Linked DNA regions of Homo sapiens. The protein of the gene in region 1 interacts with the protein of each later gene in a biochemical or structural test. Each region holds a gene or a part of one and is shown in the gene's direction. Other genes may lie near its edges.

Region 1 (3,500 bases):
ACCCTCAATGTTGCTATGCAATTGCTCTCTGGTGCAGCTGGGAACATCTGATCTTCAGTGATAGGATCATTCTCTCCTGCATCTTCCTCAGACAAATGGCACCTGCAACCAGCTGGCTTGTATCTTAACATTCAAGGCAAACAGGTTGTCATCTTAGCTGGGGTGATGTTGTTTTCAAACACTGCCTCCTCGAGGCAAGCTTGGGGGGAAAAAACTGTGCAACACGCACAGGCGTGCACACACCCCTAACACACACACATACTATACATATGTGCCCAAAATGTCAGGGAACAAAACAAAATACAGGTCTCATCATGCAATGAAATCCTCCATAGCAAGCATGAAACTATCCTGATAATTCAAAGGATGAAATGAGCAAAACCAAGTGTTTGAATATGACTGCAAGTTTCTCCCAGATAATTTTGTTGACTGGTATTGTAGCAAAAAACCAACATCTTTCAGCCTTGTAGTCTGCTCTTTTTTGGAATTTCAGGAAAGTTTCAGAACCTGCAATTGACTGAGAAAAGGGGGCTCATGTTTTCTTTTCAAATAGCTACCAGGATAACACAGTCAGTCTGTGAACCAAACATGTCTATTTCTTTCCTTTCTAAAATGTTTCAATTCCCAGGAAATGAGCCATGGTCTCCCACCTGGTGGCAGCAAGTGTAAGTAAGGATGTGTGAATTGGTTCTTTAGCAATGCTATAACTCTCTTGGGGGAGGGATGGGGCTTATATGAAGTAGACCATGTTTCTTTCTCTCTCATCAGCTGTGCTTGAAGAAAGACAAAATTTTGTTTATTCATTGGGTTTTGACCAGCTATGAAATGAAAATCACATCATACAAATGATTGATGAAAATCTGAGGGGAGATACACTTTCATGGCTTTTGGGGGAGATAAAAGGGGTCTGTGTATCCCTCCTGATGACTGCACAGTAATAACCATTATCCTCAAACCATATCAGGACAGCTTTTATGCACAAAACTGATATTTTTGTACATTTTCTTGCAAAATAGCAAGCATTTGTTTATATGATATCTGGTGATTCCTATCAATATTTTATTAGTGATTTCTGAGCTTCTCAAAAATAGGGGTGGCCTTTCTCAGTGCCTAGTTCAATGCAGCCCTCCTTGATTTTGCTTAATAAACACTTGCTGAAGCTTGAAAACTATCCATTTCCAGCAATGTAGAGGCTGCTGCTGTGAATGAATAAAAATTTGTTCTCATTGGTTTCAGAGTGAGAAGTAAATACTTATTTAAATGGCATGGAATATATAGCCCTTAAGGAAATACAGTCAATCTTTCCATTTTCAGAGTGGTTATTGGAACTATAATTAAGAAGCAAATTACTAACAATTTTTATTAATGGCTTGGAAAGTGTCCTTATCCCATGCAGTCCCAGCAGCAGCAGACTAATAATGATATTGTTAGCTTCAGGGGATAATAAATTTTTTTCCTAAGTGAACAGAGTATCTGCAGTGACTGTAAACAGATTTGGGATTATAGATTCAGATGTTTAACCTGTTGAAGGTCAGAATGAAATTACTTTCTTTTCTCTTCAGTTTTTCCCCCCTCCTTGCCAAGCTTTGATGATACCATCTGATTTATTTGGTGTATTCTAATAGTTCCTAAGCAGTCACTACAGGGTGTTCTAGAAAAGATAATGAAGTATTGGTCAGTGGTCTTTAGTTTCTCAGAGTACAATTCTTATGCACTTATTAAAATCTCCGACTAGGGCTTCTGCAGATCTGCAGCCCAAAGGGAAAGTGCCTCCAAGGAAAGGCAAAAAAAAAAAAAAAAAAAAAAAAGAAAAAAGAAAAAGAAAAAAATATCCATAGAAACCAGGAAACCATTCAGGGGTATTCTAATAAGGATTATATAGTTCCTTCTGCTCCTGTGGCACTTTACAGTTTACAGAGTGCTTGCCTCTGCATTATTAACCCTTTTATTTCCTTGAACAAGGCAGCAGGTGGGGGAGGGCAAAAATAAAACTTGACAGCTTATAGGATGTAATGATTGAATTTTCTATTGTAGATTTTTTTAAAAATCTGACATATGGCCTTTTGTGATACATAGGATCCTCATTTGTCTAAGAACAGTCTTTTAGCTGACATTTCATCAGCTCTGAATTTTTTTCCAAAGCGGTGGTTGCTGCTCCACTTCTGATGCTCCCAGAGGGGGCCAGCATAGAAGAGGAGCCAGAGAAGAAACGAGAAGAGGCAGAGACCCTGAACCGATTACTCACAAAGACCTTTTTTGTTGGTGCGTGTGTGTTTTGTAAAGGAAATAAATTGAAATCCTGCTAAGGATAGGGTGCCCGACCTTTCCAAAGCCCACCCACTGTAATTCTTTCAGTGGAAAAAAAATAATTTTAAAGGAAAAAAAAAAAAGCAAGCAAGCAGCCATTCTAAAGGGAGATGCCCCACCCTCACCAAAGCAAATAGAGCTCATTCTCAAAATAATAAAAACAAATTTATGAATTTTAAAAACGAAAAGAAAGGGACAGTGACCCCAGATAATGAAATTTATCTCTCCTCTGAAAATTATTTTAAGAAAAAAAAAGAAACAGCTTCTAAAAGGAAGTTATCCTCACCCTCATCAAAGCCCATGGAACTTATATCCCCCAAAGAAAAATTTTAAGATGAAAAAAGAGAAATCATCTTAAGTTAAACAGTATTTCTAACCTTAAAATATTCATGAAATTTGTAAACTTTATTTGACTTCATGGCTCATGCTTAATCTCTTGAGAAAATTAAGGGGGCAAAAATAAAGGGAAGGTCCCCCAACCTCATCAAAGCTTCCTGACATTATTTTCCCGATTACATAAAATGTGCAGAGGAGGCAAATCCTTAGAGATGGAAAGGAAATGAGGGAAGCAATATGGGAGGTGGAAAAGGGGATGATGGCTAAAGAGTACAGGGTTTCTTTTGAGGGTGATTAAAATGTTCTAAAATCAGAGAATGGTGATGGGTGCACAACACTGTGGATACAATAAAACCCACAAAATTGTGTATGTTAAGATGATGAATTTTATGGTATGTAAATTACATCTCAATTTTTAAAAATAGTTCAAAGAAAGATACCATCCCTCTAACCACAAGATAAGAGACCTATTATTCTCCCAAAAACAAAAAACAAACAAAATTGAAAAAAGGAACTAAAAGAAAGGGAGATCCTCTTAAAGGATCTTCAACCTCGCCAAGGATAATAACCTTTATTTGCCACCCCTTCAATTAAAAAAAAAGAAATTAAGGAAAACAAACAAAAAAAGGAAATCTTTTTAAGGGCAGATATTCTCAAAAATCATAAAAGTTAATGAAATTTACGAATCCTCCCCTCTAGATACACACATTTTAATTAAAAAAAGAAAGAAATATTAAAGGATAGGTCCCTGACTATACCAAATCTCCAGAATTTTTAATTCCAAGAAGCAGGGGCGCGGGGGGTGCGGGAGGGAGGGACAAAAGAAATACCACTCCTCCATGACTAAAGAGCATAAA
Region 2 (3,500 bases), on another chromosome or scaffold:
TGGGTGCAGTGTTCTTTGTGTATGTCAAGTTTAGGTCAAGTTTGCTCTTTATATTGTTCAAATATTCCGTATCCTTGTTGATTTTTCCTGTTTTCTCTGTCAGTTCCTAAGAGAGGTGTATTAGAATTCCCACTGTGATTGTAAATTTGTCTATTTCCCATTGCAGTTCTGTCAGTTTTTCCTTTACATATGTTGAAGCTATGTTAACAACATACAGATTTAGAATTATTATCTTTCTGGTGAGCTGAAATTTTTATTATGAAATCTATTATTGTTATGAAGTCTTCTTTATTTCTAGTAGGTATAAAGTCTAATTTTCCTGATATTAACATAGCTAACCATGCTTCTTTCATTTAATATTTGCCTGACATATCTTTTTCCATCCTTTTTCTTTCAACCTTTTTGGATCTACATTGTAGGTGTGCTGTGTCTGCTGCAAAGAACAGGCACATGGCTGGGAGTGGTGAGTGGCCCATGCTTATAATCCCAGCACTTTGGGAGGCCAAGGCAGGAGGATCACTCAAGCCCAGAAGTTCGAGACCAGTGTGGGCAACATAGTGAGAGCTCATCTCTACAAAAAATAAAAAAATTAGCTGGGCATGATGGTGTGCACCTGTGGTCCTAGCTACTTGGGAGGCTGAGGAAGGAGGATCACTTGAGCCTAGGAGGTCAAGACTACAGTGAGCTGTGATTGTGATACTGTACCCTAGCCTGGGTGTCAGAGTGAGACCCTGACTCAAAACAAACAAACAACAAACAAACAGTATAGGCAGAGAGTTGTTGTTATTATTATTATTTTCTTCTCAATGCAGACCTAGGATGATATTTTCCTTCAAAAAATCTTTGTTCGTTTGTCAGGTGCCTAGGGTCACTGGGTTAGTCTTAATTCAGTGTTGGGACTGAGAGTACTTGAAATCGAGCTGTAGTCCCTGGAGTAGCTGTGTCTGATTACAGTTCACTCTATTCCTATGGAGCAACCCTTCAGGGTCCCTATGCAAAAGGTGGGGCTCAGAAGAACCCTGCTTCTTGGTGGGCCCTGGTCCCTAGTTCCTATTCCTCTAGCCCTGAGAAGCAGGCAGAAACTCACTCAGTCTCTTGATCTCTCAATCAGCCCTCTGGAATTTGAAAACACCCCAGGAGGAAATTAGCCCAGAAAAACACTAGGTTTCCTTCTACAGTCCTCCATTCCCCTAGATCCTGCCTGGTAGCTCCTCTCTCTCTTGTTGTTTATCTAAGAAGATGCTTTAACATATTTTGTTTAGCATTTCTAGTTTTCCTCAGTGGATCTGTCATCCCAGAAATGGAAGTCCCCTACATATATTTTCTAAGCTTTTTTGAGTTGGTTTTTGTTTTTTTTTCCCTCCCTTTCTGCCTCTCTCCCTCCTTTTCTCCTCCCTCCCTGCCTCTTCCGTCCCTTCCTCCCCTCCCCGCTCTCTCTCTCCGTCCCTCCTTTCTTTCTCCCTGCCTGCCTGCCTACCTGCAGTTGTCCGAGCAGGCATTACTGGGGCTGGAGGGTCCCTTTCCAAGATGGCTCATTCACATGGCTCTCAGCAGGAGGCCTCAGTTCCTTGCTACCTGTAATTAGGAGGCTTCTGTTTCTCATCGCATGGACCTCTTCGTAGGATTGCTTGAGCTTCCTTATTATGTGGCAGCTGGCTTCCTTCTAGGCAAGTGATACAAAAATGAAAGCAAGAAAGAACTCCCATAAAAAGATGAGTAACCCAGCTCAAAAATGGGTAAAGGATTTGAATAGACATTTTTTTCCAAAGAAAAATGGCTAACAGCATGTGAAAAAATGCTCAATGTCATTAGTTATCAGGGAAATGCAAATCAAAACCACAATGAGATACTATCATACTAGAATGACTATAATAAAAAAAGAGCCAATAACAGGCGTTGAAGAAGTTGAGGGGAAATTGGAACCCTTGTACACTGCCGGCCGGAATGTCAAATGGTGCAACCACTTTGGAAAAGTTTGGCGGTTCCTCAAACAATTAAATGTAGAGTTTCCATTTGACCCAGCAATTCCACTCTTAGGTATAAATCCAAGAGGAATGAAAACACATGCTCACACAAACATGTGTACACACACACATGTTCATAACGGCATTATTCATAGTAGCCAAAAAGTCGAAATAACCTGAAATATCCATCACCAGATGAGTGGATAAACAAAATGTGGTATATCCATACAATGGAATATTATTTGGCCACAAAGGGACTAAAATACTGATACGTGCTACAATATGGGTGAACCTTGAAAACATTATGCTAAGTGAAAGAAGTCAATCACAAAAGACCATGCGTTGTGTGATTCTGTTTACATAAGTATCCAGAATAGGCAAGTCCTTAGAGACAGAAAGCAGATTAGTGGTTGACAAGGGCTGAGGGGAGAAGGGAATAGGGTGTGACTGCGAAAGAGTATGGGATTTCTTTTAGGGGAGGATGAAAATGTTCTAAAATTAGATAGAGGTGATTGATTACAGAATCCTGTGAATATACTAAAAGAAAATTACATGCTTTAAATTGGTGAAGTGTGGCCGTGCACGGTGGCTCAATCCCAGCACTTTGGGAGGCTGAGGCGGGTGGATCATCTAAGGTCAGGAGTTCGAGAGCAGCCTGGCCAACATGGTGAAACTCTGTCTCTACAAAAAATACAAAAAATTGGCCAGGTGTGGGTGGTGCATGCCTGTAATCCCAGCTACTCAGGAGGCTGAGACAGGAGAATAATTTGAACCTGGGAGGCAGAGGTTACAGTGAGCTGAGATCATGTCATTGCACTCCAGCCTGGGCGACAGAGTGAGACTCCATCTCAATAATAAACAAAACTGATGAAATGTATGATATGTTAATTATATCCCAATACAGCTGTTAAAAAAAGAAGGAACTAATAATACCTTTAATATCCTAATGTTGAAAGTCATCCACTGTCATTTCTACCACATTCTATTTGTTAGAAGCAAGTCACTAAGTCCAGCCCATGTCTGAAGGGAGGAACTAGGCTTCACCTCTTGAAAGGAAGAGTATCAAAGACTTTGTGGACAAATTTTAAACCCATGATAGGTATAGAGAGGCTAACAGTGGGGGCCCTGGACTGCCTAAATGCAAACCCCAGCTCTGCCACTTACTGGCTGTGTGATTTGGACAACCTGTTTTAGCTATTTTCTTTTTTTTGAGTTGGGGTCTCACTCTGTTGCCCAGGCTGGAGTGCAGTGGTGTGATCATGGCTCACTACAGCCTCAACCTCCTGGGCTCCAGTGATCCTCCCACCTCAGCCTCCTGAGTAGCTGGGACTACAGGTACACACCACCACGTCCGGCTAATTTTAAAAAAACGTTTTTGGAGAGACAGAGTCTTGCTATGTTGCCTAGACTGGTCTCAAACTCCTGGCCTCAAGTGATCATCCTGCCTCAGCCTCCCAAAGTGTTGGGATTACAGGTGTGAGCCACCATGCCCAGCCAACCTGTTTACCTCTTAATAATCTTCAGCTTCCTTGCCTG
Region 3 (3,349 bases), on another chromosome or scaffold:
GAGCGATGCGGAGACATGGCTAATCTCAGGGAGCCTGCGAAGGGTCAGCTGGAGAGGGCACTCACCTGGCAACTCCTGCCCTCTTATTTGGCAGTGCAAAAAGGCTATTCATCTTTTTGGAAAAAGAAACCCCTGTATCTGTGGAAAAGACAAGGGATTTGAAATTTCCAAGTCTAGGGTCTAAAGCTCTGGGTTGGGAAGGAGGTGAAATTCTTCTCATTCTTTGGCTCATGAGTCTGCTGCAGCAGAAAAAAACAAAGCCCAGGCTGATGCCTGCTAAATTGCAAATTACTGCTAAATTGTCTTGCAAATTACTGTGGCCTAGTTCAGGATAGATTGTGACCTGTTTGTGTGACCTTGATTATGACTGTGACCTCCACCATGGTTGAAAACTGCTGATTTTGTATAAGATGTACCCTGAATCCATGAAGACAAATTTGTGGAACCAAGAAAAGAGAAACAGTAATAGTGTGATCTTATGTGGAGAAAACACCCTAGTAGGTTGGGGAGTGCAAAGTATCAAGGTTTATGACAACAGCGAGTGTTTATTGAGTAAATAAGCAGTCTGTGTACTACTGCCCGCTTTCCATTTTGTTTTGCCTGTGACCGTGAAAGAAGTGGGTATTTTTTGAAAGGAAAGAGATTAATAGTACTCAGCATCGGTGTAGTGCTTGGTGTTTGCAAAGAGGTTTCAAATGCACTATCTAGTGTGAGCCTGTGAGAATAGGCGTTTTTACCTGTTGTACAAGTGAGGCATTTATATCGTTGAAACATAGAAGAGGAGAAATTACTTGATTAATGTATTCCACCAAAGGGACCTATAACTTAAATCTGTATCTTTGATTCTAAGTCCCCTCATCTTTTCCACAGTGACAGAGCTTTCCAATACTCTTCCCAGTACTCTCCAATTTTGTTGTATCTAAGTAATAAGTATAGATATTTTTGGACTTAATATCATGTTTAAGTTTACATCGATATTACCCACACAGAAAACAATAAAAGGAAATGATGGTTCCCAAGGTGTTTTGGTATTTTTTACATTCTTTGGTTGAGTCCTCAACACTAATAATTAATAATTGGGAGCAAGCATGCCTGTGAATTACTGCAAGTAGAAACTATATATGTCATTAATTCTTACAACAGTCTTATAAGGTAGGTATTACTCTTATTATTATTATTAATTCTTATTTTAGGGTTGAGGGAAATAAAGCTCAGAAATTTAAATACCTAGCTAGTATTTAAATACTAGCTAAAGCTAGTATGTCTCTGAGTTAGGATTTAAGCCAAATTTTGTAAAACACTAAAACGATTTTTTTTTTTTTAAATTATACTGCCTTCCAGAAAATGTGTAGCTCCTTGGAAATTATTGAATTGGAGTCGTCAGCTGGATACATTTGGATATTTTAAGAATGAAGTTACCTGTTAGGGCTACACACTGTCTTTATTAAAGCTTTGTGCAAAACCAGGCGCTATAATAGATGCTCTTTCTTTGCATCTTTCCTTTAGGTCTGTCAGTTTGTCGTCTCTGTCAACGGGCTCAATGTCCTGCATGTAGACTACCGGACCGTGAGCAATCTGATTCTGACGGGCCCACGGACGATTGTCATGGAAGTCATGGAGGAGTTAGAGTGCTGAGCTCCTGGGCCTCCCAGCCCTCCAGTGGCCTGTGGGTGAGGGAAGCCAGAATGACACAAAGCAATGCAAAGACAAGATTGCCATGCAAATGGATGGTTTTGGACATACGAGTCTTCTCCGCACATACATGTCTAAAGTTGAGTTTTATACACTGAATGTGGAAGAACCGGGTATCATATCTTTTTTAAAAAATGTCAGTGTAGAAAACATTTGGGAAACCATTTTCCTACATGATAGAACTGCCTTACTAGATTTCTATTTGTAGCTCTCATTCATTGTTTTTTATCTTAGTTTGCAGAAAGGTGTTGAAATGCTTCTCTAGCCCAAACAGCGACATGCTAAAGTCCCCTTCTTCAGAGTCAATAGAGTAGTTGTTAAAGGTTTTAAATTGTACTTTCTCCAAAATTAGCATGCAGCTATTTAATAGGGAATCTAGATTTCACCAAGATTCAAATCAAAGCAACATTTAAAGGAATAAGACCTGTTCACTAGCATTTTCAAGGGGGTTCTAAAGCATTCAAGTGCTTAAAAGCCATAAAAAATGACTTCTTAATTCCTGCCTTTAGTGTCAACTTTTAAGTTAATACAGGTTTCAATTGTGGCATTAGGAAAAAAAAAAACCTTGTGATGCTATGGTTGGGGGTAGTTAGGGAGAGACTACATGAAATTGTGTGCCCCTATTTTCTTTCTGATCCTAAATCATTTTGTTTTATAAATCAGCTATAGCATCTTTCTAGAATTAATCCTGAATATGTTGAATGTTAAAATAGAGAAGTTTGTATATACACATAATTAAAAATCAACCCTTCTGGCAAGATTTCACTTTGAAGGTGTCTGTTTTTAAGGGAAGGCTAAAACTTTGCTGATATGTGATAAAACTTGAACTCTAAATTGCCTCCTTAGCCTGAATTTTTACTAGCTTTCTAGTGTAACATATTCTAAGGACATGACATGCTGCTTATTTGGGGGGATTATTTTTCACCAAAATGATCATCTTGTGTTGTAACTTTTCAGCTCACTTGTATATACGCACGTTTTCATTTTTGGTCTAGAAAATAGTGCATTTTGGGGCTCAGCGTGCAGAGGAAATTCCTCAAAGTGCCAAATTAGGCAGTCAGGAAATACTAAATTCTTCATTCCAAATAATGGATCTGAATGATGACGTTAATTTTTTATCATGCATTAACAAAATAAAATATGAGAATTGTACCACAGCCATTTCTTTTCATTAGGTTATCGTAATGTATAGGTACTGGTGGAATGGACCTACCGTGCTAAATATGTTATAGACATATATATATATATATATATATATATATATATTTCTGGTAATCCAACTTTTCTGATTTGTAGCTTTAGTCAGAGAATAGGATTTTGGAGTGACAGAGAATGTCTAACAGTAATACTGTTGATATACATTTGAGAAATACTATCACCTCTGTGTGGGTGTGCATTTGTACTGTATGGCAGGCTCTGTGCATTTAATATATATGATATCCTTTAACCCTCAATGCAACCTTGCAAGGTAGATATTAACGTCCACATTTTTCAGATGTGGAAACTAAGCCTGAGCAAGTTTTAAAATGGTCTCTAAATTCACACGGCTGCAGGAACTACTAGGTGAAATAGGCTGAATGTAAACACAGGTTTAACGCTAAATCCCATGTTACTCCCCTCAACTTTTCCCCATTTAAGGACCTTATATTGAGGGTTT
Region 4 (3,500 bases), on another chromosome or scaffold:
ACCTCTAGCCATCAGTGGCGCCTGTCTCATTCTCTGCAGGTGATGGAGGAGTTGCAGGCCGCCTCCGTGCACAGTGATGAGAGGGAGCTGCTCCAGCTGCTGTCCACCCCGCACCTGAGGGTAGTCACACAGAGCCCCTGCCCAGCCATGCCTCTGGGTCTCCTGGGATGGGGGCGGAGGGAGCTCTCCTAATGAGGCTGAGGAGTGGAGACTGAGGGAGCGATCCTCAGCACTAGTGTCTGGGCAGTTGTCTCTCTGGCATGGCGTCTGCCACCCTCCATACCACCGGCCAGCTGCGGCCTGCTGACCCTGTGAGCGGCGGGCCAGCCTTCCTTTTCTCTGGCTTTCCCGGCAGGCTGTGCTCATGGTACATGACACGGTTGCCCAGAAGAATTTTGACCCCGTTCTCCCGCCTCTGCCTGACAATATCGATGAGGATTTTGATGAGGAATCGGTGAAGATCGTCCGCTTGGTGAAGAACAAGGAACCCCTGGTAGGTGCTGCTGCCTGCCCCTCTCTAACCCACTCTTCCCCTGCCTCTCACCCCCACCCAGAACACTGGACAAGATCCTCCCCGAAGTCTTCAGAGTGAGTGACGGCAGCTTTGCCTGCGCTGCTGCTCATCCCTGTGGTGCCTCTGTGTGCAGGGCACCCCTTTCTCTAGGTGGATACAGCCCCTCTCAACTGTGGCCAACACCCTTTGTGTAGTTAATAACCTGCACAATTGTACAGGGTGACCCTGATCATGCTTTAAGCCAGAAATGGACAAACTACAGCCCAAGGGCCAAAACCAGCCCACAGCTTATTTTTTAAAATAAAGCTTTTTTGGAGCACAACCAGGCCCATTCACTTACAGATTGGCTGTGGCTGCCTTTATAGTGCGATGGCAGAGTTGAGTCGTTGTGACAGAGACTGTGTGGCTGGCCTCAAATATTTACATGTGGCCCCTTATAGAAAACGTGTGACAATGCCTGCTCTGAATGTTGAGGAAGCACAGGGCATTCCTCTCCCCAGCAGACAGACTGCTATCACTTTGGTCCTGGTTCAGCATTGATTTACCGAGCAAAGGGACAGCGTTGTTTATGAGATGCTCAGAAGTGGTGGAAGCCCAGAGAATTGAGATTGGCTCCAGAGGATCCCACAGCTGGCATTCTCTATTTCCAACTTTCCCCAAATGACCTCCGACGAGCCTCTTCTGCAAACAGACGAGGATCTCTCCTCTGCCTCTGTTTCCTCACTTGTAAAATGGAGTGGCCATCCATTGATTTAGCAAACACATTGTGAGCCCTCCTATCCAGGCTCTGTATTGGGTGCTGGCGGTTCAGAGCTGAATAAATGATGGATAGCGATGCTGGAAAGTTCTCAGTTCTGGGGGGCTAGAAGTCCTGAGGTTCTTAGCTGATGGCCTCTCTTTCTAGCAATAATTATCTTACGTACTTCAAATAGATGGCACAGATGATGTTAACAATAAGTGTGCAAATGTGTTTGCAGTTACAGCCACTAATAAGTGGTTAACATATGTTGAGTGCTTACTGTGTACTAAGTGCCTTGAGTGGAATCCTTGCAACAACACTGTGAGTTAAATGCTGTCCCACATCTCACAGGAAACAGGCTTGGAGAGGATAAGAGATTTCCTTGTTAAGTCCACATGCTTTTTGTAAACGGCAGAACTGTGTTCACACCCAAGGCTGTCCAGCCCTAGAGCTTAGCTCTTAAGCTTTCTGCCGTCCTGCTGCAGTCCGGCCTGTGTGGTGCAGGAAATCGAGGGCTCGTTAGTGCCTTTCTCATCCTAAGTGTCATCTCTGCTGTGCTTCATGGGCCAAGTCCTGGTCCCGAAGCCCTGGCTGGGGTGCATAATTGGTTTCCCTCAGCAGCAGCAGAAGGCCCGGTAACCCTGTGATTGGGTAGAGGCAGGGTGAGAATTAGCTGGCACGTGTCATCCTCATTATTAAATGTCTTTGCAAGTGGTAGGAACTGTGATATGAGAGAGATGTGATGGAGAACTTACTGGATTTGGCATCACAAAAAGCTTTCCCCTTTACCAGCTGGGTGACCTTGAGGATATTTAACTTCTCTGAGCCCCAGTCCCTCATCTAAAATGTTGCAGCATTATTGTGCCTTGTAAACTGTACAGTGCAGGGCTATATTAATGGGGGATGTTGGTTTTGTTTTGTCTTCAGCATTGGGAAGGTCCCCACTGATCTCTCTGGACTGTCAGAGGGAGGGACTGGGGAGGCTGTGTTGGGTCCAGAGAGTAGGGGTCTGAGGTTTGGAGCTGCTGCTTAAGAACCTGTCTCTTCTGTCTCGGGTTCAGGGTGCCACCATCCGGCGGGACGAGCACTCAGGGGCTGTTGTGGTGGCCAGGATCATGCGAGGAGGCGCAGCAGACAGGAGCGGTGAGTGGCGGCAGTGCAAAGCTGGCCCAGCCCCGATCATGGCCATTGTTCCAGAGCCCTCCACCTTTGCTAATAGGTCCCCTTACCTCCCTCCTATCAGGTCACCTGTTTGGGATTTGCTTTGCTTTCTGGGGTTGTGGCTGGAATTCTCATCTCCTTCCCAAGTCAGTAGAAATTTTAATAGAAAATATAGGCCAGCTGGGCATGGTGGTGCACACCTGTAATCCCAGCACTTTAAGAGGCCGAGGCAGGCGGATCACTTGAAGCCAGGAGTTCCAGACCAGCCTAGCCAACATGGCGAAACCCCATTTCTACTAAACACACAAACCTGGGAGGCGGAGGTTGCAGTGAGCCAAGATCATGCTGCTGCACTCCAGTCTGGGCAACAGAGTGAGACTCTGTCTCAAAAAAAAAAAAAAAAGAAAAAAAAAAAAAAGCCAGGCACAGTGGCTCACGCCTGTAATCCCAGCATTTTGGGAGGCCGAGGTGGGCGGATCACCTGAGGTCGGGAGTTCGAGACCAGCCTGACCCACACAGAGAAACCCCATCTCTACTAAAAATACAAAATTAGCCAGGCTTGGTGGCACATGCCTATAATCACAGCTACTTGGGAAGGCTGAGGCAAGAGAATCGCTTGAATCTGGGAGGTGGAGGTTGCAGTGAGCCGAGATCGCGCCATTGCGCTCCCGCCTGGGCAACAAGAGTGAAATTCCGTCTCAAAAAAAAGAAAAAAAGAAAAAGAAAATATAGGCCATGCACGGGTGGCCCACACCTGTAGTCCTAGCTGTTCGGGAGGCCCAGGCAGGAAGATTGTTTGAGCCCAGGAGTTTGAGGTTGCAGTGAGCCGTGATTACACCACTACACTCTAGAGTGGGCGACGCAGTGAGACCGTCTCAAAAAAAAAAGAAAAAAAAAAAAAATATATATATATATAAATAGTCATGGAGTACTTTGGGGTGATTGAGAAAAAGCTCATGCGTTGGTTTAGTCCAAGGACTGTGACAGTTAAGAATATAGCATGGGCTTGCGGGATTACTAACTGTGGGACAGGGTTGACACCCTTCCCCACCATCCCAGGTCTTGTCAAGCTACTATTACAAAGAG

What was found. The genes of interacting proteins can lie anywhere in the genome.
Region 2: the proteins of DGKK (region 1) and RGS3 interact in a test that uses a peptide from one of them, tested with the Homo sapiens proteins (one large-scale study listed by IntAct).
Region 3: the proteins of DGKK (region 1) and DEPTOR interact in a test that uses a peptide from one of them, tested with the Homo sapiens proteins (one large-scale study listed by IntAct).
Region 4: the proteins of DGKK (region 1) and MPP3 interact in a test that uses a peptide from one of them, tested with the Homo sapiens proteins (one large-scale study listed by IntAct).

Annotation. Positions count from the first base shown.
Region 1 is NC_000023.11:50,464,326-50,467,825, reverse strand, and holds part of DGKK (diacylglycerol kinase kappa), read left to right. Parts: intron 1-3,500. UniProt on the Homo sapiens protein: Diacylglycerol kinase that converts diacylglycerol/DAG into phosphatidic acid/phosphatidate/PA and regulates the respective levels of these two bioactive lipids.
Region 2 is NC_000009.12:113,470,227-113,473,726, forward strand, and holds part of RGS3 (regulator of G-protein signaling 3), read left to right. Parts: intron 1-3,500. UniProt on the Homo sapiens protein: Down-regulates signaling from heterotrimeric G-proteins by increasing the GTPase activity of the alpha subunits, thereby driving them into their inactive GDP-bound form.
Region 3 is NC_000008.11:120,048,070-120,051,418, forward strand, and holds the end of DEPTOR (DEP domain-containing mTOR-interacting protein), read left to right. Parts: intron 1-1,506; coding exon 1,507-1,635; 3' UTR 1,636-2,849; downstream 2,850-3,349. UniProt on the Homo sapiens protein: Negative regulator of the mTORC1 and mTORC2 complexes: inhibits the protein kinase activity of MTOR, thereby inactivating both complexes. DEPTOR inhibits mTORC1 and mTORC2 to induce autophagy.
Region 4 is NC_000017.11:43,826,647-43,830,146, reverse strand, and holds part of MPP3 (MAGUK p55 subfamily member 3), read left to right. Parts: intron 1-15; coding exon of another isoform or gene 16-39; coding exon 40-120; intron 121-355; coding exon 356-493; intron 494-2,314; coding exon 2,315-2,396; intron 2,397-3,500. UniProt on the Homo sapiens protein: Participates in cell spreading through the phosphoinositide-3-kinase (PI3K) pathway by connecting CADM1 to DLG1 and the regulatory subunit of phosphoinositide-3-kinase (PI3K). Stabilizes HTR2C at the plasma membrane and prevents its desensitization.